Homo sapiens: one gene and its partners. The protein of the gene in region 1 purifies or fractionates together with the protein of each later gene. This does not show direct contact. Each region holds a gene or a part of one and is shown in the gene's direction. Other genes may lie near its edges. The genes, in order: SLC22A11, CPT2, INTS12, KIRREL1, TTK, CNOT1 and RNASEL.

The links.
Region 2: the proteins of SLC22A11 (region 1) and CPT2 purify together in Homo sapiens (affinity purification with mass spectrometry; one large-scale study listed by BioGRID and IntAct). This does not show direct contact.
Region 3: the proteins of SLC22A11 (region 1) and INTS12 purify together in Homo sapiens (affinity purification with mass spectrometry; one large-scale study listed by BioGRID and IntAct). This does not show direct contact.
Region 4: the proteins of SLC22A11 (region 1) and KIRREL1 purify together in Homo sapiens (affinity purification with mass spectrometry; one large-scale study listed by BioGRID and IntAct). This does not show direct contact.
Region 5: the proteins of SLC22A11 (region 1) and TTK purify together in Homo sapiens (affinity purification with mass spectrometry; one large-scale study listed by BioGRID and IntAct). This does not show direct contact.
Region 6: the proteins of SLC22A11 (region 1) and CNOT1 purify together in Homo sapiens (affinity purification with mass spectrometry; one large-scale study listed by BioGRID and IntAct). This does not show direct contact.
Region 7: the proteins of SLC22A11 (region 1) and RNASEL purify together in Homo sapiens (affinity purification with mass spectrometry; one large-scale study listed by BioGRID and IntAct). This does not show direct contact.

The regions. Positions count from the first base shown.
Region 1 is NC_000011.10:64,568,863-64,573,221, forward strand, and holds the end of SLC22A11 (solute carrier family 22 member 11), read left to right. Parts: intron 1-789; coding exon 790-996; intron 997-2,116; coding exon 2,117-2,180; 3' UTR 2,181-4,013; downstream 4,014-4,359. UniProt on the Homo sapiens protein: Antiporter that mediates the transport of conjugated steroids and other specific organic anions at the basal membrane of syncytiotrophoblast and at the apical membrane of proximal tubule epithelial cells, in exchange for anionic compounds.
Region 2 is NC_000001.11:53,203,324-53,206,823, forward strand, and holds part of CPT2 (carnitine O-palmitoyltransferase 2, mitochondrial isoform 1 precursor), read left to right. Parts: intron 1-3,500. UniProt on the Homo sapiens protein: Involved in the intramitochondrial synthesis of acylcarnitines from accumulated acyl-CoA metabolites.
Region 3 is NC_000004.12:105,701,824-105,706,182, reverse strand, and holds part of INTS12 (integrator complex subunit 12), read left to right. Parts: intron 1-208; exon of another isoform or gene 209-304; intron 305-792; exon of another isoform or gene 793-869; intron 870-2,373; 5' UTR 2,374-2,535; intron 2,536-3,159; exon of another isoform or gene 3,160-3,297; intron 3,298-4,359. UniProt on the Homo sapiens protein: Component of the integrator complex, a multiprotein complex that terminates RNA polymerase II (Pol II) transcription in the promoter-proximal region of genes.
Region 4 is NC_000001.11:158,080,156-158,084,514, forward strand, and holds part of KIRREL1 (kin of IRRE-like protein 1 isoform 1 precursor), read left to right. Parts: intron 1-4,266; coding exon 4,267-4,359. UniProt on the Homo sapiens protein: Required for proper function of the glomerular filtration barrier. It is involved in the maintenance of a stable podocyte architecture with interdigitating foot processes connected by specialized cell-cell junctions, known as the slit diaphragm.
Region 5 is NC_000006.12:80,006,954-80,011,312, forward strand, and holds part of TTK (dual specificity protein kinase TTK), read left to right. Parts: intron 1-855; coding exon 856-1,078; intron 1,079-1,432; coding exon 1,433-1,539; intron 1,540-3,860; coding exon 3,861-4,004; intron 4,005-4,359.
Region 6 is NC_000016.10:58,538,528-58,542,886, reverse strand, and holds part of CNOT1 (CCR4-NOT transcription complex subunit 1), read left to right. Parts: intron 1-318; coding exon 319-459; intron 460-551; coding exon 552-656; intron 657-1,266; coding exon 1,267-1,386; intron 1,387-2,927; coding exon 2,928-3,119; intron 3,120-3,972; coding exon 3,973-4,115; intron 4,116-4,359.
Region 7 is NC_000001.11:182,582,226-182,586,584, reverse strand, and holds part of RNASEL (2-5A-dependent ribonuclease), read left to right. Parts: coding exon 1-1,258; intron 1,259-2,418; coding exon 2,419-2,504; intron 2,505-4,326; coding exon 4,327-4,359.

The DNA.
Region 1 (4,359 bases):
AGGGAAATGCAGCCAGGGCCGCTCAGGGTCCCCCCCAGGACAGCTCTTCCCCTTGAGAGTCTCGACCCAGACAGAAGCAGTACAGTAGAGCCCTGGGGACATCTGGGCCTGTGTTTTCACACCATTTTGAGCCACAGAGTCATCTGTCCAGATGGAATCTTATAAGAATCCTGATTAGGAGACCAAGAGCTGCCCTGGTAGCAGTGGGGACCCTCAACTCACTTCCCACCACTCCTTCCCTGCCCCAAGAGAGCCCCAAGTCACCTCCTTGGAGCCCAAGGGCATCATAAAACACAAATGGAAAACCAGTGGTCTAGAGTCTAGGCCACCCCCACATTTGATATTTGGGTAAACTGAGGCTCGGGGTGAAGGACTGGCTCAGCAGAAGGGTAGGACTGGACTCCAGCTCTCCAGACTTTTAGCCCAATGTTCTTTCCACCACTCACTCATTTCTCCATATTTTAATTTGTTGTTTGGACAAGCATTTATTGATTTTGTTGATATCGTATGGAAAGCCTGAGTTGGGAGCTCAGTGGCCTAGCAGGAGTATGGAGAAGCCCTTAAGTTGCCCAAGAGTGGGGAAAATGAGGTGGGCCCTAGAGATTTCCCCTGAAACACTAGATGCAAAAATCTGGGTGGGCTCCGTGGAGGAGGTGGCATTAGAGGAGGCCTTGAGGAGGGCAATTCCCTCAGCCCAGCTTTCCTTCCCCTGGCATCTGTGAGCCCAGGATGTCTTCCTGCCACAGGGCCAGCTGTTACAGGGATCTGGGCCCTCCCCTTCACCCACAGGATGACAGCAGATGGCATTCTGCATACAGTGGGCCGGCTGGGGGCTATGATGGGTCCCCTGATCCTGATGAGCCGCCAAGCCCTGCCCCTGCTGCCTCCTCTCCTCTATGGCGTTATCTCCATTGCTTCCAGCCTGGTTGTGCTGTTCTTCCTCCCGGAGACCCAGGGACTTCCGCTCCCTGACACTATCCAGGACCTGGAGAGCCAGTGAGTGACCTGTGATCCCTGGGCATCGGGCTGGGCTTCCTCCTGGGCCAAGATGGAGACAGGCCTGGGCTGCCCAGGGCAAAGGCTCAAGAGTACCAAGGCCTGTGTTTCTGAAACCATTTAATCTTTCCAACAATCCTGCCAGAAATGTATTATTACTATCCCCATACTATTACTAGGGTCAGAGAAAGAAAGTGACTTATCCAAAGTCTCATGGGTAGAAAGTGATCATACCTCATGCAGGAAAATGTAATGGTTGAAAGCCCAGGCTTGGCAGCCAGGTTGCCTGGGCCCACGTTCCCCACCTGCCTGGGCAAGTGACTTAACCTCTCTCACCAAAACTGACAAAGGGAGATACAGATAGTCTCAACTGTCCTAGTGCAATTTTCCCACAAAGAATTTCAGGCCCAGACAGATCAACAGGTGAGTTCTTTCAAACCCTCAGAGAACAGATGGTGCCATCTCACACCCATTCTTTGACAGGGAGAAATGAGGGAGCACTCCCTGGCTGCATTTTATAGCCAGAACCACTTCTGTGGGCTTTAGCCTCCTCCTTTGTAAGATGGTGTTTAGAAAAAACAAACAAAACCCAGCCTGGCTCACAGAGTTGTTTTCAAGTTTAAGGGAAGTATTATTTTAAAGCACCTGGGAAAATGCCAGGCCTGCAGCAAGCACTCTGGACATGTGGTTATTGTGTCCTGGGTGACTGTTCACAGGGCCGCCTCAATTCTGATGGTGACCGAGGTCACAATGATAGTAATAATACTGAGTTCTTATTGTTTTATGTCACCTTATTTAATCGATACAACAACCACATGAGGTGCTATTACAGTCCAATTCCTTTGCCAAGGAAACTGAGATGCAGCAGGGTTATATAACTTGCCTAAGGACACCTGCAGAGACCCGGAGAAGCTGGGACTTCATTTTTTCTTTAATTTAATTGATTTTTGTTGTGTACCTACTATGTTTCAGGCACTGTCCCGCTTGGGTACACAGAAGGGAGTAAAAGCCTAATGCCATAGAGTTTACCCCCCAATAAGACTTGACCGCCATTTTGCCCCAAGCTCCGAGTACATACCCACTTCACCACATGGCACTGCTTTTCTTTGGATTATTCTAGGAAATCAACAGCAGCCCAGGGCAACCGGCAAGAGGCCGTCACTGTGGAAAGTACCTCGCTCTAGAAATTGTGCCTGCATGGAGCCCCTTTAGTCAAAGACTCCTGGAAAGGAGTTGCCTCTTCTCCAATCAGAGCGTGGAGGCGAGTTGGGCGACTTCAAGGGCCTGGCATGGCAGAGGCCAGGCAGCCGTGGCCGAGTGGACAGCGTGGCCGTCTGCTGTGGCTGAAGGCAGCTTCCACAGCTCACTCCTCTTCTCCCTGCCCTGATCAGATTCCCCACCTTACCCGGGCCCTACAGGAGCCTGTGCAGATGGCCATGCCCAACCAATAACGAGACGGTTCCCCTCCCTTTCCCTGCCAGGCTCATGTCTTTACACCTTCACTCAGCCACGCCAACCAGAGACTGGGTTCCAATCTCACCCCACCACATACAGAGCCCTCATCTGTGAAATGAGAATGATCACGTGACCCACCCCCCAGGGCAGGTATCAGGGTGAACTGATCTTAGCACCGGCCAAATAAATGGAACCTGCTGAGAGAGCTGCCAGATACAGGTGTCCAGGTTGTGCACTGGCCCGAGGCACGCAGCCAAGGAGGCGTGTGGGGTCTGAAACTCAGCCCCGGCTACACTGGCCCCACCACCCACCCTAGCAAAGGCTGTGTCCTCTCCAAAAAAAGGAGCTGTTTTAATCACTTTTCATTTACTCATCAGTGAGGGAGGGCTTCCAGCCCTATGGTTACGAAGACGGCCAAACACACCACCAAACACCAGACAGAGGAGGCTGGCAGCAGGTTACCACACACGTGCGCAGAGCCCACGAAGATGACGCTGCACTGAGGCATGGGGCGGGGTGCACTGAGGATCCGAGCGAGCAGCCAGGGCTGCAGGAAGGCAGCTTTGGAGCACAAAGGGGGTGGGGCAACTCCTGGCTTCTGCGGGAAGGTGTAATCAGCTTGTTTCATCATGCTGCAGGCTGGCGAGAAACGGAGCCTTACAAGCGTAGGGATAAGAGGAACCCCTCTTGGTCCCCTCGATGAGGGTTGTTGGGCCGGGGAGCCTCATCCACAGGGCGGAGTGAAAGGGGAGAAGGGGAGCTCACAGGCAGGCCTGCCAAGGCCTTCTGGCTTTGCCAGATGTCAAGGGCAGCACCTAATACTGAACCTTAACTTTCGGCTTTCAACCAAACGGCACCCTTTTGCTGTTTGTTTTCTGGAGGGGACACCTTTTCTTGATTCATGCCCAGACCTCCCTTGTCCAGGCCATGAAAACTCTGGGATGGTCGAGGCCGGCTGCCCATCTCAGATGGGCAAGGAAGCAAAAGTGCAGAGTGGTGGAGGGGCCAGCTTGCAGAAACACGGCCGAACCCGGCCCTGATCCTAGCCCAGGGCTCTTTCCAGCACAGGAGGCTCCTAGCCCTCGTCTCCAACCCTCCATGCCACTGATATCTGTGGCCCTGCCACAAAGTTACCCTCATGCCCTTCCCTGGAGACCCCACTCTGGGCCACCTCAATCTCAGGCCCCTCAACTCACCTCTTTCACCCTGTGTACACTGGGTCAATCACTCCTGCCTCCTCACAGCTCCCAAATCCACCTACTTCCCTTCACTCTGGCTACACCCTGGTTCACACCACGGTTGTAGCTCCAAACTGGTCCCTGATGTCTACATTGCACTCTGCACAACAGCCACCATGCTTATTAAGAAACGCAATCCAAACCAAATCCCTCCCTGCTGAAAGCCCTCCAGTGGCTCACAATAAGGATCACACTTCTCCCCCTGCCTGGTCAGGCAGCCATGGGACCCCAGCCTTTCCTCCCACTTCGGTAAATTTTAAAGGATTCGGATCATACAAAGAATGTTCTTGAACCAGCATGGAATTAAATTAGAAATCAATTATGGAAAGAGATATAGAAAACCTCTTCAAACTATACAACACACTTCTAAGTAACCCACGGGTCAAAGAGGGAATCTCAAAGGAAATGAGAAAAGATTTTGAACTGAGTGAAAATGAAAAAATGGCATATCAAAATTTGTGAGATGAAGCTAAAGTAATGATTATGGGGAAATTGATATCATTAAACACTAACATTAGAAGAGAAGAACGTTCCAAATCAAATACCTCAGCTTTCACCTGGAAAGTAGCAAAAGAAGAGTTTATTAAACTTATAGTAAGCAGAAGAAATAATACACAAGAGAAATCAGAGAATTGAAAAAACAATAAAGAAAATTAGCGAAACCTACAGG
Region 2 (3,500 bases), on another chromosome or scaffold:
ATAGGGATTTGTAATTTTGGGTAACTCAGTATCTAGTTTTATGCTATTATGATCATAGAAACACTATTGTCAGCTGACTCATGTAGCATATTGGGATTGTTTTTCCTTTCCAGTACAAACTTTTTGTTTTCTCTGAAGTTAATAATTGTTCCATCTTTTCTCTTGTTTAGTTTTCTATGTGCTTACTAATTTACCCCCAGACTCTTCCCAAGCTGTCTGAATCTCCTCTCAATACATGAAAGCAGATTGGACATTCTATCCCTTTTGGTCTTCTTGACGAAACTTCTTCCAGAACTTGCGACATGCTGTAGTCTGGATTTGTGAACCTCTTGGCCTACTGTGAAGCTGCTCTCCTGTGCTCTTTCACCATCAGCTGGGGCATCTGTCATCTCTCTCTCATGTTGGGACTCGTGTTTCTTGTCTTTCATATTTTCTTATTTCTTGGCTTTTTCTTTTTCTTTTTTTTTTTTTTTAAATCAGAGCACATATTCCCTGTACTATCTGGAAACAGAATATGGGAAGCAAAAATTTTAAAATGGCCCTTATACTTCATTGATAATTTGTTTGGCTGGGTTTGAAATTATTTTCCCACAGAATTTTGGAGGCTTTGCTCCATTGTCTTTTAGCATCCAGTGTTGCTGTTGGTAAATCTAATGTTATTCTGAGACTTAATCTTTTGACTACTTCTTCTCTCTGCCTTTGGAAGCTTTTTAGAATTTTCTCTTTGTCCCCAGTGTTTTGAAATTTCAGGTAATGTGTTTTAGTATGTGTTGGGCCACTCTGTGAGTCCTTTGAATCTGGAATCTCATCCTTCAGGTCTGGGATATTTCCTTGTTTTATTTCTTTGGCTTTCTTCCTCTCCATTTTTTTTCTCTGTTTTTTCTTTGTGGAACTCTATTATTATTCAGGTGTAGAATTTCTGGGTCTCATCCTCTAATTTTCTTTTCTCTCACATTTTTCATCTCTTACTCTTTTTGTTACATTTTCTTGGGAGACTTACTTAATTTTAATCTCTCAACCTGTTTTTAAAACTCCTGCTTTCCTATTTTTTACTTCCACAAGCTCTTTTTTCTTCTTATGGTGTTCTTTTTAAAAATAGTTTATCTCTGATAATTTTTTTTTAAGATCTCTTCTCTCTTCATAGTCTGTTGCCTCCAAGTTGCTTTTCTTCTGTTTGCTTTGCCCTTTTCTTTCTTCAGATGCTTCATAATCCTGTGTTGTCTTCGATATGAGTGAGATATTAAAAAGCTCTTGGAAGCTATGTGGATGGGGGTGAGGCTTGTCAGTTACAGGCTTTGCTCTAATGTGATTGATATGGTTTGGCTCTATGTCCCCACCCAAATCTCATCTTGAATTGTAATCCCCACGTGTTGAAGGAGGGACCTGGAGGGAGGTGATTGGATCATGGGGGCAGTTTTCCCCATGCTGTTCTCATGATAGTTAGTGGTTTCTCACGAGCTCTGATAGTTAAAAAGTGTTCAGCAGTTCCCCCACTTGTTCGCTTTCTCTCCTGCTGCCACATAAGATGTGCCTTGCTTCCCCTTCACCTTGCGCTGTGATTGTAAGTTTCCTGAGGCCTCCCCAGCCACAAGGAACTGTCAGTCAATTAGACCTCTTTTCTTTATAAATTACCCAGTCTCAGGTGGTTCTTTATAGCAGTGTGAAAATGGACTAATATAGAAAACTGGTACCAGGAGGGGGGCATTGCTACAAAGATACCTGAAAATGTGGAAACAACTTTGGAACTGGTTAATAGGCAGAGGTTGGAACAGTTTGGAGGGGTCAGAAGAAGACAGGAAGATGTCAGACAGTTTGGAACTTCTTAGAGAGTTGAATGGTTTTGACCAAAATGCTGATAGAGATATGGACAATGAAGTCCAGGCTGAGGTGGTCTCAGATGGAGATGAGGAACTTATTGGGAACTGGAGCAAAGGTCACTCTACTGTGCTTTAGCAGAGAGACTGGTGGCATTTTGTCCCTGTCCTAGAGATCTGCAGAACTTTGAACTTGAGAGGGGTGATTTAGGGTGTCTGACAGAAGAAACTTCTAAGCAACAAAGCATTCAAGATGGCTTTTTCTGAAAGCATATGGTCATATGCATTCACAGAGAGATGATGTGAAAGTGGGACTTATGTTTAAAAGGGAAGCAGAGCATAAAAGTTTGGACAATTTGCAGCCTGACCATGCAGTAGAAAAGAAAAACCCATTTTCTGGGGAGAAATTCAAGCCACAAGCTGCAGAAATTTGCATAAGTAATGAGAAGCCAAATGTTAATAGCCAAGACAATGGGGAGAATGTCTTGAGGGCATTTCAGAGATCTTTACAGTAGCCCCTCCCAGCATAGGCCCAGAGGCCTAAGAGGGAAAAATGGTTTCCTGGGCCCTGCTGTTCTGTGCAGCCTCGGGACATGGTGCCCTGTGTCCCAGGCACTCCAGCTCCAGCCATGGCTAAAAGGGGCCAAGGCACAGCTCTGGCCATTGCTTCAGAGGGTGCAAGCCCCAAGCATTGGAGGCTTCCCCATGGTGTTGGGCATGCAGGTGTGCAGAAAACAAGAGTTGAGGTTTGAAAACCTCGTCCGGCCGGGTGCGGTGGCTCACGCCTGTAATCCCAGCACTTTGGGAGGCCAAGGCGGGTGGATCACAAGGTCAGGAGATCGAGACCATCCTGGCTAACATGGTGAAACCCTGTCTGTATTAAAAATACAAAAAAAATTAGCCGGGTGTGGTGGCGTGCACCTGTGTCCCAGCTGCTGGGGAGGCTGAGGCAGGAGAATAGCGTGAACCCAGGAGGCAGAGCTTGCAGTGAGCCAAGATAGCACCACTGCACTCCAGTCTGGGTGACAGAGCAAGACTCCATTTCAAAAAAAAAAAAAAAAAAAAAGAGACAACCTCCTCCTACATTTCAGAGGCTATATGGAAACACCTGGATGTCCAGGCAGAAGTCTGCTGCAGGGGTGAAGCCCTCATGGAGATCCTCTACTAGGGCAATGCAGATGGGAAATATGGGGTTAGAGCCCCCACACAGAGTTCCCAATGGGGAGCCTAGTGGAACTGTGAGAAGAGGGCCACTGCCCTTCAGACCCCAGAATGGTAGATCCACCGACAGTTTGCACCATGTGCCTGGAAAAGCCACAGGCATTCAATGCCAGCCTGTAAAAGCAACCATGGGGCTGTACTCTGCAGAGCCACAGGGGCAGGGCTACCAAAGGCCTTGGGAGCCCACTTCTTACATCAGCATGCCCTGGATGTGAGACATGGAGTCAAAGATTATTTTGGAGCTTTAAGATTTAATGGCTGCCCTGCTGGATTTCAGGCTTGCGTGGGGCCTGTAGCCCCTCTGTTTTGGCCAATTTCTCCCTTTTGGAATGGGAGCATTTACCCAATGCTTGTAACACCAGTGTATCTTGAAAATAACTAATTGGTTTTTGATTTTACAGACTCATAGGCAGAAGGAACTTGCCTTTACTCAGATGAGACTTTGGCTTGTAATTTTGAGTTAAT
Region 3 (4,359 bases), on another chromosome or scaffold:
GATTACCAAGAAGAAACTGCTAGCAGAACTAAGAAGATAGCCAAGGACAAATACTTGGACAATACCAAAAGCAACAAAGAAGATAAGCCAAAGAAAGAGTAGTCAGAGATAGAAGAGGAAAAACAGAAAAGTTGAGTATAACAGAACTCAAGGGAAGAGAAAGTTTTATGAAATTGGAAGTAGATAACAAGTATTTACTTGGCCAACATTTACAGTTATTTGCTGTTTTCCAGGAACTCTGCCAGACAGGGGTTACAACAGTAGGCAAGACCAATCCACTGCCTGCCTTCATGGAACTTACATTCTAATGAGAAAGAAAGATTATTTACATAATTAACAGTGTGATTAATATTACAAATAAGTACAGAATGTTTTTGGGCTATGTAACAGTGAAACTTCTAGTTTTGTTGAGGGAATGTGCAGGAAAAACTGAAACTTGAGAGGTGACTTAAGATGGAGGTGGGGGTGGCACACTTTCTACTGAAGTGCTAAGGTAAGAAAGAGTATATTGGAGGACTTGAAATAAGTCAGATAGCTATAACAGAGAGAGTGAGAATGGCCTAAGATACTAGGTAACATTTAATGAGTGTCAACTATGTGTCAGGTACTGTTGTAACTGCTTTATATGTATTATTAATCATGTAGAGCAATGGTCCACAACCTTTTTGGCACCAGGGACCAGTTTCATTGAAGACATGGTTTCAGGATGATTCAAGTGCATTACATTTATTGTGCACTTTATTTCTCTTATTACTACATGGTAATATATAATAAAATAATTGGACAACTCACCATAATGTAGAATCAGTGGGAACCTTGAGCTTGCTTTCCTGCAGCTAGACGGTTTCATCTGGGGATGATGGGGTATACTGTGACAGATCATCAGGCATTAGATTCTCATGAGGAGCACACAACGTAGATCACACACATGCACAGTTCACATAGGATTCGCATTCCTATGAGAATCTAATTCCACCAGTGATGTGACAGGAGGCAGAGCTCAGGTAGTAATGCAAGTGATGGGAGTGGCTGTAAATACAAATGAAGCTTCCCTCGCTTGCCTACTGCTCACCTCCTGCTGCATGGCCTGAAGGTTAGGGACCCCTGATGTAGAGAATTGGAGACCTTGTTAAGAATCTTATTCTTGAACCTTTGGATTGTGAGAAGTGATAAAAGGATTTTAAGCAAGTGAGTGATATGAAAAGGTTTAAAGGGATGACAAGAGTGATTGTGGGAGACTGATTAAGCTTTTGCAGTGGGCCAGATAATAGATGATGCTAGGTTGGTCTAGGGTGGTAGTAGTAAGGATTGAAAAGGGTGGATAGATTTGAGGTATGTTTAAGAGGTTTGGTTATTGAATTGGGGGTGGGAATTAAGGAAGTGGGAAGAGTTAAAGCTGCTTCTGGGTTACTGGCTTGGGCAATAGGGTAAATATCATTTGAAAAAGGGATTACTAGAGGAAGAACTGGTTAGGAGAAAAGGGAATAGTGTATGAGTGGCTCTGTTGGAGACACGTTGCATAGGAGGCACCAATGATATATCCATGTCAAGCTGGCAGTTGGATCTTGGGAGAGACACATGGACTGCAGAGATGTATTAGTAATCACTGGCAAAAGACTATATAGATCAAATTGTCTAGGGCAATAATTCCCAAACTTTAGAGTAGATAGAATTGCCTGGAAGGCTTAACACAGATTTCTAGACCCTACTCCCAGAGTTTTTTCTTCAGTAGGCCTAGGAATGGAGACCAAGAGTTTGTATTTCTAAGTTCTGACGTGATACCTATGCTGCTGACTCAGAGAACACATTTTTGGAAGAAGATGTAGAACAAGTCAAGAAGAGACCCAGAACCTAGCACTGAGGAACTCATTTTTAATTGGATAGGAGGAACCTACAAAGATGACTGACAAAGAAGTAGGAGGGACAATCGTATGTATTAGGTTTACCTGACTGAGGCGGCGAATGACTCATGAGAGCATTTTCATGGAATAGTGGGACAAAGGCTGAATTGCAAGAATTGCTGTGTAAATAGAAGGAATGAAGAAAAAGAGTACAAAAGCATATGATTTCTGAGAACGTTTTGCTATAAAAGAGAAAAGATAGAAGATGTTTGAATATATTTAATGTCAATGAAAAGATGCCAGTAGAAAGGCTGAAAAAAAAAAAAAGAAGATATGGGAAATAATCCATAGGCCAAGGTTCAAGAGGGGACAAGAAGAGATAGGATCCAGATCCAGGTGACACTACATAGAGAGCTACCTTCTCCTTTTTTATCAGATGGGAAAGAGGAAAGGATGAGTGCAGGTAAGTTTGTAGATGTGCTGGAAGGAAGTCGACTTAATTCCTCTCTGACAGCCTCTCTTTGTGAAGTAGGTGAGGCCATCTACTGAAACACAGAAGCAATTTTAAAAGAAAATGGAGGAAGTATAACTGATCTTTGCAGAAAGTGGGGAAGTGAGTTGACCAGAGAAGGATGAGAGAATTGCCAAGTTGTACTGAACGCCAAGCTGAGAATGGTGATTCTGAAGATAGAATGTATGTATATTCCTCCCAGTTGCACTTAGAGTTTGGGTGCAGGCAGAGAGAGAATGGCTAGCAGGGTGGATGTCTATAAAGTAGGGAAACTACAGGGCTTTCGGGTGCCTAGAGTACTGAAAGAGGTATTGAAAGGGTGGACCACAGAATGTGAGCTGGATAGGAAGTAAACGGCATACTGCAATAAATCAAGGATAATAAGAGATACAGAAAAAAGATCATTGTTCAGTAATGGCGATTTTTGTGCTATATGCATTTGACACAGCTAATTCCCAGCATCACCTAAGAATTCACTCCTATCAATACTACTACTACCACTTCCCTAGGTCAGCGAAAGCTTTAAAGTGGTAAATATTAATTTTCTCACATTCTCCTTTTTGAAAGCAACATCTACTTTTTAAATGAAACCTACATTTAATATATTAAATATCTTTCATATATACATTTTTCTTTCATACACACACACAGGACTTTGTTTTCTAGAACTCTAATCCATAGTAAGAATGATATGGCTCTTTTGCAGTCTGTTTTGGCCATGGGTTTAGGAATGAATATACAGGAAAGGAATTGTATAGAAGTAACATGATTTGGTGTAACTCCAGGAAAATATTTTTGTATGTGTAGATCAACACAGTTACACCAAGTTGCTGACCTCTTTATGACTGCTGTAGAAAGTAAACTTCTTTCACTATATGGATATTTGCCGGTAAGGAAGGAAAAGTAACAGAGATTAGAGAAGGCAACAGAAAAGGGGGAGTAAAGGTAAGATAGAAAACTAAAATATAAAATATAAACCACATAACCATAAGTGTTTTATTTTAGGTTCAACTACTGTTTTCTGTTTGGTGAGGAAACAAAAGTCAGGGCAAGAGGGTGCCAATAAGGAGAAAGCAGAAGGGACAAGAAATTGGAGGCTTCTGTAACAAAGAACAAGTAGAATGGGAATAGAGAAATGAATAAATACAGAAGAAAGATTGACTTGGCACTTTGAAGAGGTCCCTGGATTAAGGCAGTGGAAGAGATAGAGTAATGGAAGATTGTAGTCAGAAAGGAGAATTGATTGTAATAAAAGAGGACAATAGTTGTGGCAAGTTTCAGATTTCACTGGCTGAAGATAAAGCTCCTTGAGGTTAAAGATCAATTATATAACACACTATTATCACTCTGTATATGAATAGATTTTTAAAAAATAAATAGAAATAGAAATAAATTGGCTGGGCGCGGTGGCTCACGCCTGTAATCCCAGCACTTTGGGAGGCCGAGGCGGGTGGATCACAAGGTCAGGAGATCGAGACCATCCTGGCTAACATGATGAAACCCCGTCTGTACTAAAAAATACAAAAAATTAGCCGGGTGTGGTGGCGGGCGCCTGTAGTCCCAGCTACTCGGGAGGCTGAGGCAGGAGAATGGCATGAACCCGTGAGGCGGAGCTTGCCATGAGCCGAGATCATGCCACTGCACTCCAGCCTGGGCGACAGAGCGAGACTCTGTCTCAAAAAAAAAAAAAAAAAAAAAAAGAAATAGAAATAAATTAAAAAGTTAATATTTTTTTCTCTGTATTCCACCATGGGGACCACTGGGTCAAAGGGCCATGTTAGTAATTTAGGGGAGGGGTACAAAGCCTGTTAAGTTTTATAATGGCAAGATTGCATAAAAAGAACTGACTCCAAGGTTCCAACTGGAATGTTGGTGTTGATGACTTCCGCAGTCTTGTAATCTAGGTGCTGACTCTTGTCACCTAATCTGTAATGTAAACCTCTTACCTGTGATTGTAGAAATACATAGCAATAAATACTTGGCTTTCATTTTTCAGCATAGAAATTT
Region 4 (4,359 bases), on another chromosome or scaffold:
AACCTTCTTCTTTCTTTTTTCCTCCCTAACTGCCTCTATCTTAGGCCCTAGAAGGTGCTACTGCTGCCCTGGAGTACTCGCTTCCTAATGAGTGGACCTTGATACTCTTCTTTCTGCTACCTTATCACAGAGATAGAGAGAGATGAAGAAAGGCCAGCTAAGCTACTAAGTGTTGCAGTAACAATGTCTTATAATGGCACCCAGTGGCTTGGTTCAATCCAGGAAGAACCTGGAAAAGGAGAATATCAAGGGGAACCCTAGATGGAAGAGTGCCTTGTTTAAAAGCTTGCAGGCCAATGAAGGAGAGCTACATAGCAGGAGAGCCGACTGGCTTGTTTCGAGGGCATGGTGGGTATTGAAGGTATGGTCCTTGCTGGCCTGCCTGGGTGACTTGGGTGGATGAGAGAACAGGGAGAGACCCCAGGAGTAACTTTAAGCTGAAAGAGAGACAGGGACGGTTAGTGCAGCTGGAGGGGCTTTACACGCCTGGGCAAACACCTGGGCATGGTGTCTCCTCGGGGCTCTACCCATCCAGGATCTTCCTCCCGGGTGTGGCAGCAACATGTGACCTTAGAGGGGCCTGAGCAGACCAGGAGGCCCTTCTCCCTTCACTCTTTCCTCTCCTTGTCTTTCTCTTAAATTCTCAAACACCCTGCCACCTGCAGCACACGGAGGCAATAAGAAGGCATGACACTTCCTGCATCCCTTCCTGCGTACCTGCTTACCCACAGCCTTTGCTCATGGCAGCTGGGGGACCCAGAGACTAGGCAGGGCAGAAATGAGGAGTGGGCTGTGCCCAGTGCCTGGTATCAGCCTCCCTGCATGATGTCAGCCTTATAGACTCCTCTCCTCCCCAGCCATCCCCCTCAGCAGCCCCCCAGCTCCCCAGGCCAGGGGCCCTCTTCACAAAATGGCCTCTGTCATTCTTCCTTAGGGTAGGACTTTGAAAAGAAGCCTCCCACTCCCCCGCAGATGCAGACATAACATAGATATACAGACCTCCAAAACCATGGTGATGAGCATGACTTCTGGGTCAGGCAAGCCTGGTCCACATCCTAGCTCTGCCCTCTAACTCACTCTCCTGTCTCTGAGCACATTTGTTTATCCTCTTCGAGCCTCCGTTCCTTATCTGTAAATTGGGGTTAATATATTTACCATGAAAGGAATAATGAAATATACTTTGTGGTAGGGATTAAATGAAGTCATATACAGGAGGCACTTTGGCTGACACAAGGTGAACGTTCACTGAGTGGCAGAAGTTATTGTCGATCCCACCACCATTTACAGTTGGCTTCACCTTCTTGATTTTGTTTTGCAAAATCAGGGGAGTAGGTGTCCATTGTATTTTTGAAGTTTTATAAACAAGGAGACTGAGGCTTTTTTGACCACAGACTCAGGGGCACATGAGTTTGGGGAGGCACATGAGCATATTGATATACAGATTTAAGTCACAAACCATAAAAACTTGCTTATAAACACATGCACACATGGACACATGCCCTTTAACAGCTGGCTCAGCAGGCACCTTAACAGCTTTATTGTCATTTGTCCCATATATGAGGGACGAGCTCATATATGAGGGATGAGCTCACGGAGGATGGGCAGAGAGTTTGGAAAATTCAGAGAAAGGTAGACTGCTGGCAGAGGTGACAGATGGGTAGTCTTTGCATGAACAAAGGGGCAGGAGGCATTCCCAGGGTAGAGGAAGCTGATGCCTTCCCAGCGGAGGGGCTTCACACACCCGGGCACACACCTGGGCATGTTGTCTGCTCGGGGCTCTGCCCATCCAGGATCTTCCTCCTGGGTGTGGCAGCAACATGTGACTTTAGAGGGGCCTGAGCAGACCAGGAGGCCCTGAGCAGCAGCTCTTTATTCATTTCTCTCCACCTTTCTCTACTTTTCAAGCTGCTCCCCATCCCCATCCTCAAACCTGTCCCCATCTGGCATTGGAACCAGATACACCACAGAACAAGGAGGAAGAGCCAGGGATTCAGAGGATAATTAGCCAGGCAGGAGTTGGAGCCACTGCTACTCTCGTCCAGGCAGTAAGGCTAATACATTCCATACCTCACACATGCCCTGCACATCATAGTCTATGTATAGTATCTCATCTGACCTTCATGAGGCTCTAGTGAGTATGGTTATGTCTTGGTTTCTTCTCTGATGAAGAAACTGAGACTCAGTGATTTTAGGAACTCATCCGAGATCACACAGCAGGTAAACAAAGGTGCCAGGATTTGAAACCAGGCAGTCTGAATCTAAGTTTTATTCTTTTTCCACTATACCACTAGGCACACATGAGTTGAACAGAATGCTAAGACAGGTTTCGAGTAGTTTCTACTGGAAACCCCAGCATAGAGACCTTCATTGTGTAAATTCTAGAACAGCCCTGTCCACCACTGGGCACCGTGGGTCTCCCAAGATCTCCTCTTGAGTGTTCCCTCTGCACACTCCTCTCGAGTGTTCCCTCTGGACCCTCCTCTGGGTCTTTCTTGTCTTTCCCAGAAAGAAGCAAACAAAATCTTTTATCGGTGGAGCACGCTGGCTCATGCTTGTAATCCCAGCACTTTGGGAAGCTGAGGTAGGAGGACTGCTTGAGCCCAGGAGTTTCAGACCAGCCTGGGCAACATAGCGAAACCTCGTCTCTACAAAAAATAGAAATTAGCCAAGCATGATGGTGTGTACCTGTAGTTTCTGATACTTGGGAAGCCGAGGTGGGAGGATTGCTTGAGCCCAGGAGTTCCTTTCTCATTTATGGTTGATGAACACTGGGGGGACCAGAAAAATTATAATCAAAATCCTTCTGCCTTTATTTCATCAGTATCCATTCATTAATTCAGCAAATATCCCTGAGCACCTGTGATCACCCAAGCCCTGGGCTAGACATTGAAGTGTTGATGGTATATCAGAAGCAGCCGCTACCCTCAGGGAACTTACAGTCTGGTTTGTCTTAGAAGCCTATGGAGATAGGGGAGGGAGAGCCCCCCTTGTTTGCAACATCATACATCGGTCAATTGAATTCTTTAAACATTTAGCAAGAGCCTACTTGGTCACATTCTAGGCACTGGTGACCATATAAATATTAGTGAGACAGGGTTGCTGTTTTTCCAGGGGATCACAGTTTTGGTTGGGGCAGGGTTCGATAACTGTTATAAGTAAACAAAATCCAAGGCGCTAAGAGCTCTGAGTGACTGGTGGGGGCCACCATGGTGGGGGTGGGCTACAGCATGGAAAGCCTTGTGCATCAACTGGGATTTGAACAGGATAGGAAGCACTTCAATAGAAGCTGTGGGAGAAGGGCATGCCATATGGAAAGCACTGCAATGCAGGTCTTGGCTTGAGGACCCTGAACAGGAGGCCGAAATGCTTGGAACTTATGCCCTAGGCAGTTGTAGCCATTGAAGGTGCTTGAGCAGGGGAGTGGCACATACTTAGCTGTGCTGAAGGGAAAAATAACCTGCTAGCAGTGTGACATGGAGGTTACTGTAATAGGCCAGCCCATCTGTCTGCTCCAGGGCAGAGGAGCAGACAGGAGGAAGGATGGGAGAAGTGCTATGGAGGTAGCCACCTTTCCGAGCCAGACTCCCAAGACTATGAGCTGTACTCAGGGCCTGAGATAGCCCAGCCCTTTCTTAAGTTTGAGGCTTCCATCTGTAGTGTGCAGCTCTGAGCAACTGTAGGGGTATGGAGCCAGGCACAGTGGTTCACGCCTGTAATCCCAGCACTTTGGGAGGCTGAGGCAGGTGGATCACCTGAGAGGTCAGGAGTTCGAGACCAGTCTGGCCAACATGGTGAAACCCCTACTCTCTACTAAAAATACAAAAATTAGCTGGGAGCAGTGGTGGGCGCCTATAATCCCAGCTACTTGGGAGGCTGGGGCAGGAGAATCGCTTGAACCCAGGAGGTGGAGGTTACAGTGAGCTGAGATGGCACCACTGCACTCCAGCCTGGGCGACAGAGTGACACTCCATCTCAAAAACAAACAAACAAACAAACAATAAACCAGTAGGGGCATGGAGTACCAGAAAATATTATAGGCCAGGAAAGAAAAGCAGACAAGGACTGGGAAAGATGTGTGAGCTGAGGACCTAGAGGAAGCCACCACAAGAGCAATGAAGACAGTGGTTGTAGATTAGGGGGTAGGGTGGTACCGCCTACCTAGAGGCGCACATGCAGGTGGAAGGATGCTTCCAGAGGCAGGAGTTTTGGTCTTCAGGGAAGTGTTAGCCACACCCTGCACTGACTTTGCTCTGCTTTCTCCCACAGTCCCCCCAGAGGACACCAGGATTGACGGAGGCCCTGTGATTCTACTGCAGGCAGGCACCCCCCACAACCTCACATGCCGGGCCTTCAATGCGA
Region 5 (4,359 bases), on another chromosome or scaffold:
TCTGGAAATCTGAATTTAATATTGCTTAGTAATAACCAAAATATCCTGAACAGAAGACTGACATTCAAGTTATCTTTTTAAAAAACTAACACTGAAGAAAGTAAAAAGTACATTTCAGTGTGAACATTTTGTCTGAAGGTTATTCTTGCTGTTTCTGTTGGTTGGGGTTCCACAGAGAGAAACCTGACAGTCACAAGAGGTCCTATAAATTCCAAAGGTCTAGACCACGGTAACTATGAGTTTGTTGGACCAAGAAATTATCAGGGCCTCTAGCAGAAATTTAGGTTACTTGGAGAGAAGAAAATGATTGTCTCATTTGTTTATTTTTTGTAAAGCTGGTTTGGTTTTACAAGTAAGTATGAGGTATACAGAGATAATGTTGAATGGTTAAGGTTGTAAAGAAGGTTATGTTAGGACTGGAGCAGTAGGTTTAATGAATAAATCATTGATGGGAGAATTTTCTAAGTTAATTAGTACAAGTGGCAGTGGGAGAGATTTAGTTTTCTATGGATAGGTAGGATGCTAAAATTATAGTTATCCTGCAACAGCATAAAATTTTCTTAAACTACATACAATTTTTAAAGGCTACTTACAAAAAAACTCACTTATTTCCAAATGTTTTCTTTCCTTCAAAATATATAGCTTTTGGATAAAGTATACCTTCATAAAAGATAAATACACGATAAATAAGTTACTTGTATTTATATGAACTTTTACAATTTTAAAAAGTATTATAAGGACTTTATGTACATTGATACTGACAGTACAAATGTTTGACTATATTTTGAAGGAAAAATGCAATTTGGCATTTGTTTTATGTCTTTTCTTGTGATATATTTTGTTCCCCTTATTTAGATAACTCGGGAACTGTTAACCAAATTATGATGATGGCAAACAACCCAGAGGACTGGTTGAGTTTGTTGCTCAAACTAGAGAAAAACAGTGTTCCGCTAAGTGATGCTCTTTTAAATAAATTGATTGGTCGTTACAGTCAAGCAATTGAAGCGCTTCCCCCAGATAAATATGGCCAAAATGAGAGTTTTGCTAGAATTCAAGTGAGATTTGCTGAATTAAAAGCGTAAGTATTAGCATTTTAACTATGTTCAACTATGTTACATAATATGTAACTACACTGCAAAGAGAGAAAATAAAAAACATGGCAGTATTGTGAGAAAATATTAATTTTTTTACCAAATACTTTTGCTTATAGTTAACAAGAGACTAATGTAAACTCTTTTCTATGCACGTTTCCACAACAGTTTACTTATTTTAAACTGCCTAAAAAGATTTTTTTAAAATAACTTATTAGTATTTAATTTTACCCACAGAAAAAAGCAATATCCCATGTTTTTTGGAAAATTGAATGAAGCATTATCAAATTTAAGTAGCTATGTTCTTTTTCTTAAATTTTGACTCAAATCTTTTATTACAGTATTCAAGAGCCAGATGATGCACGTGACTACTTTCAAATGGCCAGAGCAAACTGCAAGAAATTTGCTTTTGTTCATATATCTTTTGCACAATTTGAACTGTCACAAGGTAATCTGAAAATGTCAAATTCAAATTTTAAGTAAAGGATAACTTATTACAACTTACTTCCTAATATTAAATCATATATATGAAGTGGAAATTTGAGGCAAAAGACATTAAAGTTGATCAGATGAGAATATGGGGAGAAAATGCCACCTAAATGTAAATGCAGAGAATATCTGTTATACTAGCTTTTCCATGTATAAAGAGTAATCCAGGGAAATGAGCATGAACATTGTGTATGTGCTACTAGTTAGATTCAGGAAACATCTAAAGGAAAGTAGCTGCTTCACTGAGTATTTGTAGGAAGAAGGATATCAGATATTTAAGCTAGAGCTTTAAATATCTAGAGCTTACATAAACTTTTCTTATGCTATGGTTTCATAGCACCAAAATGTACATTAAAGTGTAGCTATGTAACTTGGTGGTCAAGTAAACTATATATCTGTGTGTGTGTGTGTGTGTGTGTGTGTGTGTGTGTGTGTAGCGTTAATTGGTAGTTCTTTAAAATAAAAAAGTAAACTGCTGTAGAAACTATTTCTTGCTCACTTGGTTCTTCATAGTCTGGATTTTTTTGGGTAGGACCAAGACAATCTCTTCCTAAGACATTTTTAACCTGGCCATTCCTTAGTCTTTTCTCATTTTCCAGGGCCTTTGGATACACCCTCAGTCTGCCCTCTGGCCAGGTGTTTCCATTCTCCCACTGCCTTGTTTCTGCTACAACTGTGATCCAATTTACTGCCAGTGATAAACATATTAACACTATTGGAAGAATCCCCATGATGGTTTCCATAGCAGGGATTGGTCACTGGAGAGTATTCCCCAGGATTGAGCCTGGAGAAAATAATTATATGACTCAGAAATAATTTGAGAACCCTGAATTGTTACCCATTCAGATGATTTCTGAGTCCTAGTAATTGTCTTCTCCAATATGTCCTTTGCTCTATCAGGTTACTTTTTAGAACTATTATCCCTTTCTTCTCTAGAAAAATGGATTCCTCCTTGCTTGTTAGAGAAAATTTGGCAAGGCTTCTTTCTCTCCATTCTGCTTGAAAATTTCTTGAGGTATTGTGGCCTCTCAATAACAACCATAAATTTTACATGTTTAGAACATGTAAATATTGAAACTCTTAAATTGAGTTATCTGTAAAAAAGACGAACTTTATCTATACCACTTTATCTGCAATGTGGTAGTAATGCACAGTGATGCAATGTGGTCAAATGCATTGCACAGTAATGCAGTGTGGTCAAATTATGATTATTTTGAGCACAGTTGATGGCTTGGCTGTCAGGAAATAATGCAGCATCCCTGAAGTCCTATGCAGAGTCTGGTGTGTGAGTATTTTTATAGGGATGGAGGACATTTCAGTTTTTACCAGATTCTTAAAGAAATCTCTGATCTCAATACTAAGCTATCTGATTAATTAAGCTTCTTAAGCCTTTCTCTCTTTTCTTGTGCTAAAATACACAATACATGAAATTCTACCACTACTTAGTAAATGTAGATGTAAGCACTATCAAAGATATTTTTAAAAATTTATAAACTACCAGAAGCTAGAGATCATCTCTTAAGCATTTTTATACGCTAAGTACCAAGTGCATAGCATAGCTCAATGGCTCCCATAAATGTTGATAATATTCTGTAAGATATGTGATGTATACATTTAATATTTATATGTCAAATGCTAGGGGTAAGTTTACCAATTTTTTTGGTAATCTGTCCATACTCAGAAAGGTAATTATGATAGTTCCTCAGTTATTCTGCATTCTTTTTCAGGCTGGTATAGCTGAGTGTGACAGCTAAAGATTAATCTGTATTTATTATGTTTTTCCCCGAAAATCCTTTTGATGGAAGATGCTCTTTAACAAAAGATGTCATCCTTCCCTTAACTAAATGTCATTATGAATGATACTTATTATAGCATGTTGTAAGAGACTGATGCTCTTGGCACTTTTGTAACATCTAGAATGCCCTCCTGTTTCTAACTGTTGTGATTGGCCTTTGCTGTCCCCTGTTGGTAACTGCTTTGTTACACTTCTGTTACTTCTGAAAGTGGACAGTGGTGATAAACTAATGCAAAATTACGTCAGCTACATATTGCAAGGAAACTATTTGGTATGCATTGTTATCAGAAGAGAGTTGGTTATCTGCATAAAAAGTGAGAGATTGCTTACTTGCCTATGAAATAAAATACATGAGCCTTGGAATAAATATTTTTGCTTAAGTCTTTTTGATTTTTTTTTCTAGGTCCTGATGAATACGTATCTGGGTGGTCTGGGTGGTGGGCATTTTACTGCCTAAAAATGACAATTATCTTTTGCTTTGTTAGGTAATGTCAAAAAAAGTAAACAACTTCTTCAAAAAGCTGTAGAACGTGGAGCAGTACCACTAGAAATGCTGGAAATTGCCCTGCGGAATTTAAACCTCCAAAAAAAGCAGCTGCTTTCAGAGGAGGAAAAGAAGAATTTATCAGGTAACTATTAAGGTATACTAATACTTTCTGTGGTAGGTAGTACTTCAAATAAAGATTCGGGATAATAATTTATAGAAAAATATTATTTATGTAGAATGGTTAAAATCTAAGATTAAATTGTAAAGGAGGTAAGACTGAGAAGTAAAAAAGTCTCTACAACCCCATGCAAATTTGTCTTTTTTGCTAACTAAACTTTCGTTAACACATGAAAAACAACTCTAAGCAAGAGAATTTTTTTTTTTTTGCTTTTGGAAATAGAGAATGTGCTTTTACCCTGGGGAAATAGTTATATAATTTAAGAGAATTTGAAGAAGTAGTTAGATAATTATCTTGGTATCATCTTCATGTCTGCATA
Region 6 (4,359 bases), on another chromosome or scaffold:
ACTCCTGGCCTCAAGTGATCTACCTGCCTTGGCCTCCCAAAGTGCTGGGATTAGAGGTGTGAGCCACCGCGTCTGGCCTGCTTTACTGATTTTAAGGCATGTTCACAATAAACTGATAAGGTGTCTAGGATATTTTTGTCTTAAAAGTGAGGAAGCTGTTAAGACTGTTTCAAGATCACAGCTTGTTCATAAGTAGAGTCAGAACTTAAAATGCATTTGCCAAATGCACTGCATTTTCTACTATCCTGTCTGTCCACATCAACTTTCAAGTCTTTTTCCTTCTATTCCCCCCACCCCCCCACCCACCTCCATTAATAGACTGCTTCCCCACAACAAAGAGAAATGATGGATCAGGCAGCTGCTCAATTAGCTCAGGACAATTGTGAGTTGGCTTGCTGTTTTATTCAGAAGACTGCAGTAGAAAAAGCAGGCCCTGAGATGGACAAGAGATTAGCAACTGTAAGTGTTTAGAATTTGCCTTTTAAGATTTTCTTTTTTAATTTAGGGAAGTGCCTTATAACAAGAACCTCAGTGACTTTTTTTGTTTGCAGGAATTTGAGCTGAGAAAACATGCTAGGCAAGAAGGACGCAGATACTGTGATCCTGTTGTTTTAACATATCAAGCTGAACGGATGCCAGAGCAAATCAGGCTGAAAGTGAGAATTGGGGCTCTGTCTTTCCCCGTCCCATCTTTGTTTTATTTTTAATGTTGTTGTTGATTGAACTCCTTACTGGAATTAGGACAGCAGGGTTAAATATTGTTTATGAGAAAACATCTTAACTTGATAGCATTTCACTGAATGGCTGCCTGTGGAGGAGGTATGGAAATAGCTCTAAATTCCCTTGCTCCTCCAGAGTTGTTGAAGTGTTATTACTCTAAGGAGTTCATGTGCCTGCTAGTTTTCATGTTTCCCAACTTGGGCTTCTCACATTAATGGTTGCTTATTGTTCCCAGTGAGACAGTGAGAAATCTGATAATATTTACCAGCTTCAAGGGAGAATTGCACTGGCATCGTCCCATGTGAGGCATTTTCCAAGAGAAACTCTCAGTTAATTTATAAATGAGGTGACTCTTAGCAGGATTCAGGGAAATGAGAAGCCCTCTTCTGAACTGCATTTGTGTGTGCGTGCATGCTTAATCATGCTGTTATATGTTGTAATGACTCTTGTGTCCCTGAGCTTACCCACATGCAGACTTTCCACTTTCAAAACAGTTTATTTTGATTATTGAGTGAATTCTGTCAAAATAGGTTTTCTTCTTTCAAGGTTGGTGGTGTGGACCCAAAGCAGTTGGCTGTTTACGAAGAGTTTGCACGCAATGTTCCTGGCTTCTTACCTACAAATGACTTAAGTCAGCCCACGGGATTTTTAGCCCAGCCCATGAAGGTAAATGTGTTTTAGATTAAATTGAGTGTTTTGCCAATTAATTTAAATGTTTTTGACATTTAATATATGTTTTTGACTTGCTTCCTGGGAGAATAATTTACAGGGGAAAAAACACCTATAGTTTTTGAGTTGTAGGTATTCTTTGTGTCCAATTAAGTATGACATACAGGGGATTAAAGAAAAATTGACATGGGTGTGGGTGATTTAACTTTAATGTTCGGCCTAATTAGGGGAATTCTCATGGTAACATAATAACTTTCGGTTTTTTATTTTTAAATTTTATTATTTATTTTTTTGAGACAGGGTCTTTCTCTGTCACCCAGGCTGGAGTGCAGTGGCGCGATCTCAGCTCATTGCAACCTCCACCTCCCAGACTCAAGCGATCCTCCCACCTCAGCCTCCTGAGGAGCTAGGACTACAGGCGTGTGCCACCATGCTCAGCTAATTTTTGTATTTTTTGTAAAGATGGGGTTTTGCCATGTTGCCTAGACTAGACTCAAACTGCTGACCTCAAGTGATCGCCTACCTTGGCCTCCCAAAGTGCTGGGATTACAGGCCTGAGCCATTGTGCCCAGCCTTCCCATTTTTTAAATAAAAGAATTTTCTAAAATTTTCAAAGGTGTTTACAGAAAACTTGGAAATATAGGGAAAAATATTTTCCCCCGAACCGGTCGATAGTAAGTTGCTGACCTGATACCCCCATCGCTCCTGAATCCTTTGGTTTGTATTTCTTACAAAACCTTTTTCCTTTGGTTTGTATTTCTTAAAAAACCCTTTTCCTGTGTGACCATGGTACAACCATTAAGGTCAGAAATGAATACTAATAACCTTACTCCATCTAATTCATAGACCTCACTCGAGTTTCACCATGTATCCCAATAATGTATAGTAAAAGACCTGTTTTAGAATCACACATTTCTTCAGTTGTCATATTTTTAAAGTCTCCCTCAGTTCTAGCTGGTGTAGGTAACTCAGTTTTTCCTCATCTTTCATGACCATAACACTTCTGAATATTATAGGCTAATTATTTTCTAAATGACTTGATTTGTTTGTCCAGTGTATTCTCATGACTAGGTTCAGGTAATGTGTTTTTAAAAATAGGAATAGCTCAGAAGTAATGCTGTATTCTTACTCTATCCTATCAGGCTTTGACAGTTGGACTGAGTACTGTATTTTTCATGGTTTGAAACACTTACTTTCTTAGGATATAGAGGGCTTAGTAGATGGTACAAGTGGTGCTGCCCTCAGTCTGTCTCATTGTTACTAATGCTCTCTTTTATCACTTGATTATGCTGCTGTCTGCCAGGTTTTCCTCTCTCAAATGAAACACCTCTTCCCTTATGCCTGCCTTGTACTGTGCCACTTGATGGTATTAATTCTGAATAGCTCAGGAAGAAGGAAAAGAAGAGGCCCTCCATGTTTGAATGTAAAAATAAGAAAAAGGGAGTAAACATACTAGTAGACCTCTATTTGATACATGTGTCAATAAAAAACCTTAACATTCTTTTGTCTCTTGTTGGTTGTTTCCTTCTGTAAAACAGCAAGCTTGGGCAACAGATGATGTAGCTCAGATTTATGATAAGTGTATTACAGAACTGGAGCAACATCTACATGCCATCCCACCAACTTTGGCCATGAACCCTCAAGCTCAGGCTCTTCGAAGTCTCTTGGAGGTTGTAGTTTTATCTCGAAACTCTCGGGATGCCATAGCTGCTCTTGGATTGCTCCAAAAGGTTGGTTCTTAAGCTATTACTTTTAGAAAATGCTAGGTGTGTAAACATTTATTGACCTGCACCACCATCTACATATTTATGCAGTTATGCTTAAGATTTCATAATATAAATCAAGTTCTGTAAGTAGGTGATTTTTTTTTTTTCCAACGTAGAATGTAGTCATGGCAGTTTTGAATGGTAAACTTGGAAATCTTCATTTTTTTTCTTAAAGATATTCTGGAAATGTGATTTGAAGAAACTTTAAAAGGTAGCCCTTTAGAGGGGTGTGTGTGTCTGTGTGTGTGTGTGTGTGTGTGTGTGTAAGAGACAGGGTCTCTCTCTGTCAGGCTTGAGTGCAGTGATGTGATCATGGGCTTAAGTGAACCTCCCACATCACCTTCTCGAGTAGCTGGTATTACAGGTGCTCACTGCCAAGCCAAGCTAATTTTTAATTTTTTTGTAGAGACAGGTCTTGCTTTGTTGTCCAGGTCGTTCTCAATCTCCTGGGCTCAAGTGGCCCTCCCTCCTGAGCCTCCCAAAGCGCTAGGATTATAGACATGAGCCACTGAGCCCAGCTGCCCTTTAGATTTTGAGGGACAAGTTGATCCAATAATTTGGATCAGGGTAGGTAGGGAGCCCTGGATTTTAACTACAGCAGAGCCTTTTATGACAATGAAGAGCACAGAATGAACTTAAATCAGATAGAATTTAGAGTGTGTGTGATAGGCAACTGAAAGGGATGTTTGGAGAGTGGAAAGGACAGGGAGGCTTTGGAAGGTATTTGGTACTTGGCATTGAGATTTGGTTTCTGGCTGTGATAGTTGGGCCAAGCACTGTATTTTTCATGGTTTTGAACGCTTTCTTTCTCCCATAGGCTGTAGAGGGCTTACTAGATGCCACAAGTGGTGCTGATGCTGACCTTCTGCTGCGCTACAGGGAATGCCACCTCTTGGTCCTAAAAGCTCTGCAGGATGGCCGGGCATATGGGTCTCCATGGTGCAACAAACAGATCACAAGGTCAGTAGCCATCTTCGAAAAGTAGTGAGTATTGGACTGCGACTGCCTTTTGACATAGATAGTACTGTTTATGTCCAGGGGTTTCCCTTTTTTCTAGTAGGTAGGTCGGACACTTAGACTTCCTACTTCTGAGAGGTGAGAATTGTTAAGTAGTTGTTTTCCATCTGGTCTCTACCTTCTCCCCATGTTGGATATAGAAAACCAGTACCTTGTTTTGGGGAATAAATTGTAGGTCATTGTTTTA
Region 7 (4,359 bases), on another chromosome or scaffold:
GTGGAACTTCTGCTTCGTCATGGTGCTGACCCTGTTCTGAGGAAGAAGAATGGGGCCACGCCTTTTATCCTCGCAGCGATTGCGGGGAGCGTGAAGCTGCTGAAACTTTTCCTTTCTAAAGGAGCAGATGTCAATGAGTGTGATTTTTATGGCTTCACAGCCTTCATGGAAGCCGCTGTGTATGGTAAGGTCAAAGCCCTAAAATTCCTTTATAAGAGAGGAGCAAATGTGAATTTGAGGCGAAAGACAAAGGAGGATCAAGAGCGGCTGAGGAAAGGAGGGGCCACAGCTCTCATGGACGCTGCTGAAAAAGGACACGTAGAGGTCTTGAAGATTCTCCTTGATGAGATGGGGGCAGATGTAAACGCCTGTGACAATATGGGCAGAAATGCCTTGATCCATGCTCTCCTGAGCTCTGACGATAGTGATGTGGAGGCTATTACGCATCTGCTGCTGGACCATGGGGCTGATGTCAATGTGAGGGGAGAAAGAGGGAAGACTCCCCTGATCCTGGCAGTGGAGAAGAAGCACTTGGGTTTGGTGCAGAGGCTTCTGGAGCAAGAGCACATAGAGATTAATGACACAGACAGTGATGGCAAAACAGCACTGCTGCTTGCTGTTGAACTCAAACTGAAGAAAATCGCCGAGTTGCTGTGCAAACGTGGAGCCAGTACAGATTGTGGGGATCTTGTTATGACAGCGAGGCGGAATTATGACCATTCCCTTGTGAAGGTTCTTCTCTCTCATGGAGCCAAAGAAGATTTTCACCCTCCTGCTGAAGACTGGAAGCCTCAGAGCTCACACTGGGGGGCAGCCCTGAAGGATCTCCACAGAATATACCGCCCTATGATTGGCAAACTCAAGTTCTTTATTGATGAAAAATACAAAATTGCTGATACTTCAGAAGGAGGCATCTACCTGGGGTTCTATGAGAAGCAAGAAGTAGCTGTGAAGACGTTCTGTGAGGGCAGCCCACGTGCACAGCGGGAAGTCTCTTGTCTGCAAAGCAGCCGAGAGAACAGTCACTTGGTGACATTCTATGGGAGTGAGAGCCACAGGGGCCACTTGTTTGTGTGTGTCACCCTCTGTGAGCAGACTCTGGAAGCGTGTTTGGATGTGCACAGAGGGGAAGATGTGGAAAATGAGGAAGATGAATTTGCCCGAAATGTCCTGTCATCTATATTTAAGGCTGTTCAAGAACTACACTTGTCCTGTGGATACACCCACCAGGATCTGCAACCACAAAACATCTTAATAGGTGAGTCCCCAATCCCCAATTCTCTCTTAGAAATTGTGGGATCTTTGTTTATGATAGGAAAAGTTTTTCATTGCAGAGAGGAAAGGCCTAGAGTAAATGTGGATGATTCAATTTGTGGATCATTATTACAACAAATTCATAATTACAGTGCAGTGTCTCCTGCTACCAATTATAACTGGGTTCTGTTAGTCTACATGAAGGTTGGTAGATGCCAACAGAATACCAGGCTAGCCTTAGATTGCCATTGGCAAAATAAACAGATGAAGGCATGTCATGGATCAAAGTAGCTCCAGAAATCTGAGAATCCTAGAGGTGAGTTCCTTCAGACAAGGTGGCAGTAACCATGAAACTTACTGACAAAATTGAGGTCAAAGTTGAGGATGTCAGGACAAGATGTGACGTAGTGAAGACACAGACTCCAAGGCAGAACAAGTCAGAATCCACTAGTCCAAGCCAAACAAAGGGAAGGAAAATAGCATTTTCTTTTAAATGTTAAAAGAAAAGCAAGGCTGACCGTAAAGTCCCAGGAAGCAATATGGTGCGGGGGAGCAAGCCAGGGCTTCAGCGATGATTAGGGTGGCTTGAAGCCTAGTCTCACTAGTTTGTAGTTTTGTAACCTCAGACAAGTCACTTGATACTGTGAGCCTCAGTTCCTCACTTGAGGCTGATAATGCCTCCTTCGTAAGTTTGTTATGAGGTCTAAGTGCAATGATGAAATAGTAAGTCATTTGGTACATCATAGGTGCTCAGGAAAGGCTGTTCTTGCCTGAAAGGTCTAAGCAGAGTACATACCTTATCCATAGACATGCACTGAGATTTAAGCTCAGTGTAAGGGAACAGCTCCTTTACAAATCTGTGCTTTCGGCCCCTGGAATTGCATGAACGAGGAGCTGGTTAAATTTGTCCTCATCCCTTCCTACCCCCTGGCCTGGAAAAAATAAAATGTAAGTGCTGCTCTTGGCAGATACCTAACAGATCAAATGAAACAGTGCACATGGCAGTGTTTTGAGGGGTGAATGGCAAATACAGATATAAGGTTTATTATTGCCTTCCACAGAGATGATGATTTTTATAGCATGTTACATATTTATATAAATCAATTGACTCTCACTTTATGGAGAATGAGTATTTTCAATGTGCCTCTGCAAACTTTTCCTTAGATTCTAAGAAAGCTGCTCACCTGGCAGATTTTGATAAGAGCATCAAGTGGGCTGGAGATCCACAGGAAGTCAAGAGAGATCTAGAGGTAAATTCTACAATCCAGTTTACCTTTCTTCTTTCTGCTTCCTTATTCTTTCATGTAGTAGTCAGGGTTCTCTAGAGGGACAGAACTAGTAGGACATATGTATATATGAAAGGGAGTTTATTAAGGAGAATTGACTCACACGGTCACAACATAAAGTCCCATAATAAGCCATCTGCAAGTTGAGGAACAAGGAAGCCAGTGATGGGTCAGTCTGAGTACCAAAACCTCAAAAGTAGGGAAGCCGACAGTGCAGCCTTCAGTCTGTGGCCAAAGGCCTGAAAGCCCCTGGCAAACCACTGGTGTAAGTCCAAAACTCCATAAGCTGAAGAACTTGGATACTGATGTTTGAGGGCAGGAAGCATCCAGCACGGGAGAAAGATGAAGGCCAGAAGTCTTAGCAAGTTGTCTGCTCTTTCATTTTCTGCCTGCTTTATTTTAGCCATGCTGGCAGCTGATTAGATGGTGCCCACCGTGACTGAATGTGGGTCTGCCTCTCCCAGTCCACTGACTCAAATGTTGCTCTCCTTCGGCAACACCCTCACAGACACACCCAGTCACAATACTTTGTATCCTTCAACTCAATCAAGTTGACACTCAATATTAACCGTCACAGTTCATTACCTTATTTCCTATGGGCAATTGGAGGGCATTCTATTTTAACCAGGAAAAAAAGAATGTTCAAGGCTTTCCCCATCTTGCTCACTGTCCTGACTCCCCTGTAGGCCATGGCATTTCCTTGGGCTTCTCCCGCAGCAGAGCTTTCAAGATGACAATGGGAAGGTGCAACAGCTTGGGTCGGTGTGGAGTTGGCTGTCACTGTGGACCCTTACTGTATCTCTTTGAATCTCTCTTCCTCCACTACCTTAATAAGTAAATAAACTGAGCATGCCACATCTTCTCTCCAGGAGAGAATTTCAAATATCTCCAATATTCATTGAGGAGTTATTTTTCTACCTAGGAACAAAGTAAGTGAGGTTTCTTTCACCACAAACTCAAACTCGTGGGCTACACTCTGCAGAAGGCTGGATACTAAGGTTCTCTGAAAACTCCTGGGAGGAGTGAGGTCAATTCCCAGCTTGAAAGAACCTAAGCTTGGCCAAAAAGATGAGGACTCTGAAATAGCTGTTGCTCCTGAGGGGACATGGAGATTGGCCGCTGTAGACCAAAGCCCCCAGGCTGATTCTGACCCTGTCAGGGTAGGTCTTTCCTGGAGAGTTTTACAGGGTGCTGCACTTTCAACCCAGTGGGTGAGACTCTCCACCCATATGTCTGGCCTCCTGGTTTGGTGGCATCAGATTTCAGCTCCCTCCTTGACTGGTGGCTAGTGCAAAGAGTTCCTTAGGCGACCTTCTTCTTGGCCTTTCCTCCTGGCCACGGCCTAATCCCTGGGGTCATCACTTTGCCTCTCCTGGCCTGGACTGACTTTTTTATTTGCTGCGTGACATAGCCTCAGACCCAAAGTCCCAGTTTCCAGCCAGGCTGTCAGTTCTCCCTGTGTTTAAAGCATTCTCCCTTTCCTCAATTTATCTATATTCTGTCCATACATTTGAGGCCCAGCTCAAATCTCTCTTCCTCCAAGCAGTCTGCCCTAACAACTGTGACTTATATGTATCTTTTACTCTTCATAAAACTAAGTGGTATGGGCGATATACTGCCTTGAAGAGGTCTGTATGCACACATCTGTGCCTTCCCTCCCTAACAAGCCTACAAATTCCTTGAGATTCCTCCCATCATCTTGTTTGCTAATAGCGTGCACCACTCCTTCCAGGGTTACCCAAATAATTAGTAAGCATCTTTGGCTTGATTTATGGCTTTTGTGCAGGACCTTGGACGGCTGGTCCTCTATGTGGTAAAG